Regions from separate parts of the Homo sapiens genome. Here region 2 is linked to region 1. The links come from fine-mapping of genetic effects on gene expression. A gene starts in region 1. The other region holds a variant in brackets. All regions are shown on one strand. Distances are from middle to middle.

Region 1 (2,898 bases):
CAACACCACCTGGCTCAAACAGCCTGGATGCCCACGGAGTTACCGGCGCTGGAGCTTAGTGATGCCCCGATGGTTGTTCAGACGGCAAAATCATGCAGACTGGGGCAGAAGAAAAGCAAGAAAGCAGCCAAAACATACCGGCCCTTGAACGCAGGAGGCTCAGCCCCCTCCTTGGTGTGAATCCTGAGGCCAGCACCTCCCAGTTATTCACAGCCAGTGCGTTCCAGAAGGGGGCTTGCCAAGCTTGCCTCTGACAGTTCCAGAACTCCACAGAACCATGCTCACAAAAGCAACTCGAAAGTACTGTATGCGAGCAGCTACTATGGTAAGAACTGAAGTTTATCCTTAGAGACCACACTCAGCTCAAGTGTAACGCACTCAACCTGTCAACACAGATACGTCGTAACTTATCACATGGAGTCGCCACTAGAAAATTGCAGCCTCCTTCAACCTAAATTCTGCCAAGCCCTCAGATCATGTCAGGTATAGACAGGAGGTCAGTCTGACACACAGACAGGCTTCTTAGCTGACCTTACTGAGTCCTTTAGAGACTCGAGAACTAGTTCCAAAAATCAGCAACCTAAGGAACTAAATACACAGGAGTATTTCAGGTGAATAAACTTTAAAAAGTGTCTCCGCGAGGAGACCCTACTCCTGGGACTTCTCTCTTGACCAATTTTACCTCTGCAGAAAAGCAGGGGCGCAGGGCCTTGTCCCGCAGCGGCACTATTTCAGGGACTCCAGCTAAAAGGCACAGTGGCCTGGGGCCAGCCAGGAAAAGAGCTCCAAGCAGCCGGCTCTGCGGGAAAGGGGAAGAGGAAGGAGAAGGGGCCTCTTCATGAAGGAGCCTACGTTAATTCTCAGCTCTCAAAGATGCTGCTGAAAAAAAACCTCACCCCAACAGCAAAAAGGTACAACTGCCGGAAAGTCCCGAGGCCCTGCTCCGTCGGCGACTTCACTCTCCAGGCCTCAGTTTCCCGATCTGCCCCTACCTCCCTGCGTGGCTGCAGAGTTAACTGAGAGGCTGGCGTGTACAGGGCTCGGCCGGGCGGCTGGCACGGGGCGAGCGCTTAGTGACCGGAGTCCGCCGGCCGAAAGGCCAGGCCCGGGACGAGCGTCCAGAGGTGTGGGATCCGAAAGGGGGAGAGTCGGGCAAACGGGCAGGAGGCGCTGCCTCCACCCCCGGAGGAGAGGGCCTGGGAGCTGCGGACTGGGCGGCGGACCCCAGGTCGGGGCGGTTCGGGGACTGAGGCGGGGTCCGCAGTCGGAGGGGTCCGGAGCGGGTGTTGGGGGCAGGGGAGGGGGCCCGGCCTTACGTGCTTGAGGCAGCGCTCCTTGAGCTTCTCCACCGAGGTGTCCTCGGTGGCCTCCTCCAGCCACTCGGCGCCGTCGGACGCGCAGATGTGCAGCCGCAGCACCTTGCCCGCGAAGATCTTCTCCTCCTGCACGAACATCCCGCCGCCGCCGCAGGGGCCTGCGCCCGCCACCCGGGCCCCTGAAGGTCACCGGGAAGGCGGGCGGGGAGGGGGCGGGGCCAGACCGCCCGCGCGCTCCTTCGCTGGGCCGCCGCCCCGCCCCGGCTCCCGTCGGCCGGGCCGCCGTCACTCTCCGCGGCCTCAGCGGTCGCCTCGCTCCCGCCGCCGCAGCAGCCGCCGGGGGCGCGCCGTCGCGGCCGCACCGGAAGTGCGTCACGGGCGCGTCTGGCGCATGCCGGGAGATGTGGTTCTCGGACAGGCGCCTCGCTCCCGCCGCCGGGGGCGCGCTGTGGCCACCGCAAAGGAAGTGCGTCACGGGGCGCGCCCGGAGCATGCCGGGAGCTGTAGTTCTCTGGTAGCTTCGTTCCTCCCCGAGCTGCAGGCGGTTCCCACCCGGGGCACTCACCACGTGGGACCTCATGGGTTCTAAAGGTAAAATACACGCTGGATCCCAAAGAAGTAACGGGAAAAAGGAATGTAAGGCATCTCGATAATGTTTTCATATTGATTACATGTTGAAATAATATTTTGTATCTATTGAGTTAAGAAAAATATGTCATTAAAATTAATTTCACCTGTTTCTTTTAACCTTTTTAAGATAGAATTTTAAATTGCCTACATGGCTGCTGTGATATTTCTTTTGCACTGCACTGCTGTAGAACGGAGGCTCTCCAAAGAACTTGGCTTTAACAAGCCTAGGTCTTTCTAATTCACACGCAGATCAGAGAGTCACTGTTCCTGCGAAGCCTAGGTTTGCGGGGCACCCAGAGGGGAGGGAAGCCGCCCTTGGTGCAGGTGATGCCAGGCAGACTCATTTTCTGTGGGGTGTGACAAAGAGTCTTTGCTTGGCCAAACTTAAGCAGGCTCCTGAACCTTCTACATCATCTGTACACTTCCTTGTAAAATCCAGTTTTAGCGAAGAGCCTTGATAAGTGAGTTTAGCAAGAACTCCCAGCCTCAATATCAGATCACCCTGGACGTCTGGTCAGGTTCCTCGTCCCCCAGGTGCTGTCTGATATCTCCAGCCTCTCTTCAGCAAGAACCCTGTCAGGTCGGTTTAGCCAGAACCGCCCACATCCCTGATGTTTTCTCCTATTAATTTTCCATTCACTGACCCCACCCACTTGCCCTTGCTGTATTGGGAGTTGAGCCTGACCTCTCTCCCCACTGCAAGCCCCCTTGGCAGTGGTCTCTGTACCTAGCTCAACAGTCCTGGATAACGTCTTACTTACCATGCTCCTAAATATGAATTTTGTAGTTCAGGTTAGACCTGACACATTGACTGATCTGTACTCATTCATCCCATTCATTTAAAAAAACTTTACTGCGCAGAGATGAATAAGGCACAGTTCCCGTTCTCAGAGGTTAGCAATCTAACCGGGGAGGCTGTCTCTGCCTCCTGCCTGCAGGCTTTTATTCTGTC
Region 2 (2,898 bases), 35 kb before region 1:
TGTCGCCACCTCTTGGCTGCTGTGAACCCGTTTGACTTTTTGAACTAACTTTCAGATTCACTCTTGTAGTTTCAAGGTCGAACCTACAGAAGGCGAAAGAAACCCGCCGGCTCAGGAATTGTGCAACCAGTGGCCTGGCGGCTGCAGGTCCCCCGTGCTGGGGGTCTTGACTTTGATGCTTTCCCAGGTGCCCACTTGTTTCAGGAGCCTCCAACCTGTGAACCTCGCACACACAGCTTGGTGCATGTCAGGTAGAGCCTAGTAGAGCTGTTCTTTTTTGGGGGGGTGGGGGATGGAGTTTCACTCTTGCTGCCCAGGCTGGAGTGCAATGGCGTGATCTCGGCTCACTGCAACCTCCGTCTCCCAGGTTTAAGCAATTAATGGTGAGGGCAGCCACATCATGGAAGTGGTGGGCCCAGCCTGGATAGGAGGGAAGCAGCGAGAGTGTCCGCTGTCTGCGAGGGCCACCCTGGCCCCGGACTCACTCCTGGGTAGGGCCTGTGGGGTCAGACCCCCTCCCTCAGCGAGCCCCAAGGAAGCGTGGGGTCCGACCGCCGCCATCCTGGGACTGAGTTTGGAGGCCTCAGTGCTTGGCTGGCAAGAGCAGCCACCTGGGGACACGGTGATTAATTCAGCATCAGAATGCAAGCGTGGGAGTTTCCAGGAACACTGAGGTTCAGGTCTGGGGGCGGAAGAGAAAAGCAGCTCATTCTCAGAAAGCACTGAGAGGCCGGGCCCTGTGGCTCATGCCTGTAATCCCAGTGCTTTGGGAGGCTGAGGCAGGATTGCTTGAGGCCAGAAGTTCAAGACCAGCCTGGGCAACACAGCAAGACCCCGTCTCTAGAGAACATTTAAAAACTAGCTGTGCGCAGTGGTGCATACCTGCAGTCCCAGCTACCCTGGAGGCTGAGGCGGGAGGATGCTTGAGCCCAGGAGTTGTGGGCTACAATGAGCCGTGATGGCTGCACTGCACTCCAGCCTGGGTGACAGAACGAGACCTCGTCTCTAAAGTAAATACATAAAACCTAAAAACAACGGCCGGTTGTGGTGGCTCACACCTATAATTCTAGCACTTTGGGAGGCTGAGGTGGGCAGATCACAAGATGAGGAGTTCGAGACCAGCCTGGCCAACATGGTGAAACCCCGTCTTACTAGAAATAAAAAAATTAGCTGCGTGTGGTGCTGGGCGCCTGTAGTCCCAGCTCCTCAGGAGGCTGAGGCAGGAGAATGGCATGAACCCAGGAGGCGGAGGTTGCAATGAGCCGAGATCTTGCCACTGCACTCCAGCCCGGGCGACAGAGACTCCGCCTCAAAGAAAAAAAACAAGGAGAGCCCTGCAGGCCCCTCCTTAGGCTGGCCTCAGAGGTCTTCAGTGGCCAGAGGGTGTGAGGATCTGCGGGACGTGCCGACTGGGGCAGCCCCCACCACACCCTGGGATGCACCCTGGCTGGGACCAGTCTCCAAATTCCCCTGCATCCGTCTCAGGCTGGAAAACTCTCCAACAAAGTTGCCTCCAGTCACTGGATGGGAAGCGGCCTCTCAGCTGAGC[C/T]GGACCCTCTCTCCTTCAGCTGGTGCTGCAGTGACTCCAAGTGACCAGTGACACCAGGTGTGGCAGCTGCGCACAGCCTTTATCGTGCCGCACTCAAGGGCCCCGGGAAGGGAACCCAGGCAGGGCCCAGTGCCATGGTGGTCTCCACTTCGCCGTGGAGAGAACGGCCAGGTGACCCAACCACAGCGAGGCCTTCAGTGTGTTCCTCACTTCCACCTGTGGCGGTCGCTTCTGGCTGTCACCCTGAGCACATCCATGTGGCCTCTTGGAGTGGCCTCTCCACGTGGCCTAGGCTTCCTGGCAACGCAGCCGCCTCAGGGCAGTGTGACTTCCTGATGGTGGTGACTCAGGACAACAAAAGCGAGAGGCCCTGAGAGTCAGGCGGGCACCACAGGGCCTTGCTGAGGCAGCCGGGGACTCCCGCTCCCTCTGCTGACACCATTGGTGGCCAGTGAGTCAGAGGCAGAGGTGCCAGAGACCCCGCCCGAAGGGAGGAGATCTGAGAGCCTGCAGCCACAGGCTCCTCCAGGACTCGAGCACCGGGGCCGCACAGAGAGCCCTTTCTCTCCTGGGCAGGCCAGGCGGGGATCCCCCAGCGCCCTAACCTGCTCTGTGACCACGGCAATGTGGCCTTGGGGATGTGCCCTGCCTCTCTGGGTTCCAGTGCAGGACTCAGGGCTGGCCACCTGAGAAGCATCTCTAGGACATTCCAAAGCCTGGAACAGGGACAGCATTGTGGCCCTGCTCTGGAAGGCTGCGTGGAAGCCAAGAAGTTGTCCTGGCCTGTCCTGGAGGTGCCTTTGCCCTTGCTTCCTGTCCTTGTCCCCAGGGGCTGCACCCATCCTACTGACTCTGCCAGCAGTGCCAGCCTGGTCCCAGGCACCCTGGAGCTGCTCCATCCCCATTGGGGGCCAAGAGCTGCCGGCCCACACCAGAGGCCCCGGCCACACAGGAGCCACGGGACAGCCGGAAGGGAAGCCAGGAGGCCTTGCTTGGGGAGCTGGGCACACGCCTGGCCTCCCCGTGATGCTCCCCTGGACGACACACGCACGCACACATGCACGCCTGTGCATGCACACAGAGCACACATGCACACACACGCACACCTGTGCATGCAGAGCACACGCACACACACACAAACCTGTGCATGCACACAGCATACACGCATGCACGCCTATGCATGCAGAGCACACATGCACACACATGCACGCCTGTGCATGCACACAGCACACATGCACACACCTGTGCATGCACACACACACATACATGCCTCTGCATGCACACAGCACACACGCACACCTGTGCACGCAGAGCACACACGCACACACACGCACGCCTCTGCATGCAGA

Evidence for each region.
Region 2: its variant is fine-mapped to the expression of UBAC1 in whole blood (INTERVAL, PIP above 0.99).

The regions. Positions count from the first base shown.
Region 1 is chr9:135,959,709-135,962,606 of GRCh38, forward strand. UBAC1 (UBA domain containing 1) reads right to left here and starts at 1,665. Exons shown (of 10, transcript NM_016172.3): 1 at 1,317-1,665. The coding sequence starts at 1,454. RefSeq lists silencers at 1,275-1,394, 1,405-1,814 and an enhancer at 1,285-1,785.
Region 2 is chr9:135,925,105-135,928,002 of GRCh38, forward strand. No RefSeq gene overlaps it. Among named protein-coding and RNA genes, the nearest start is that of CAMSAP1-DT, 19 kb to the left of the region's middle. RefSeq lists enhancers at 691-770, 1,807-1,856. The variant C/T (reference allele first, on the strand shown) is at 1,550.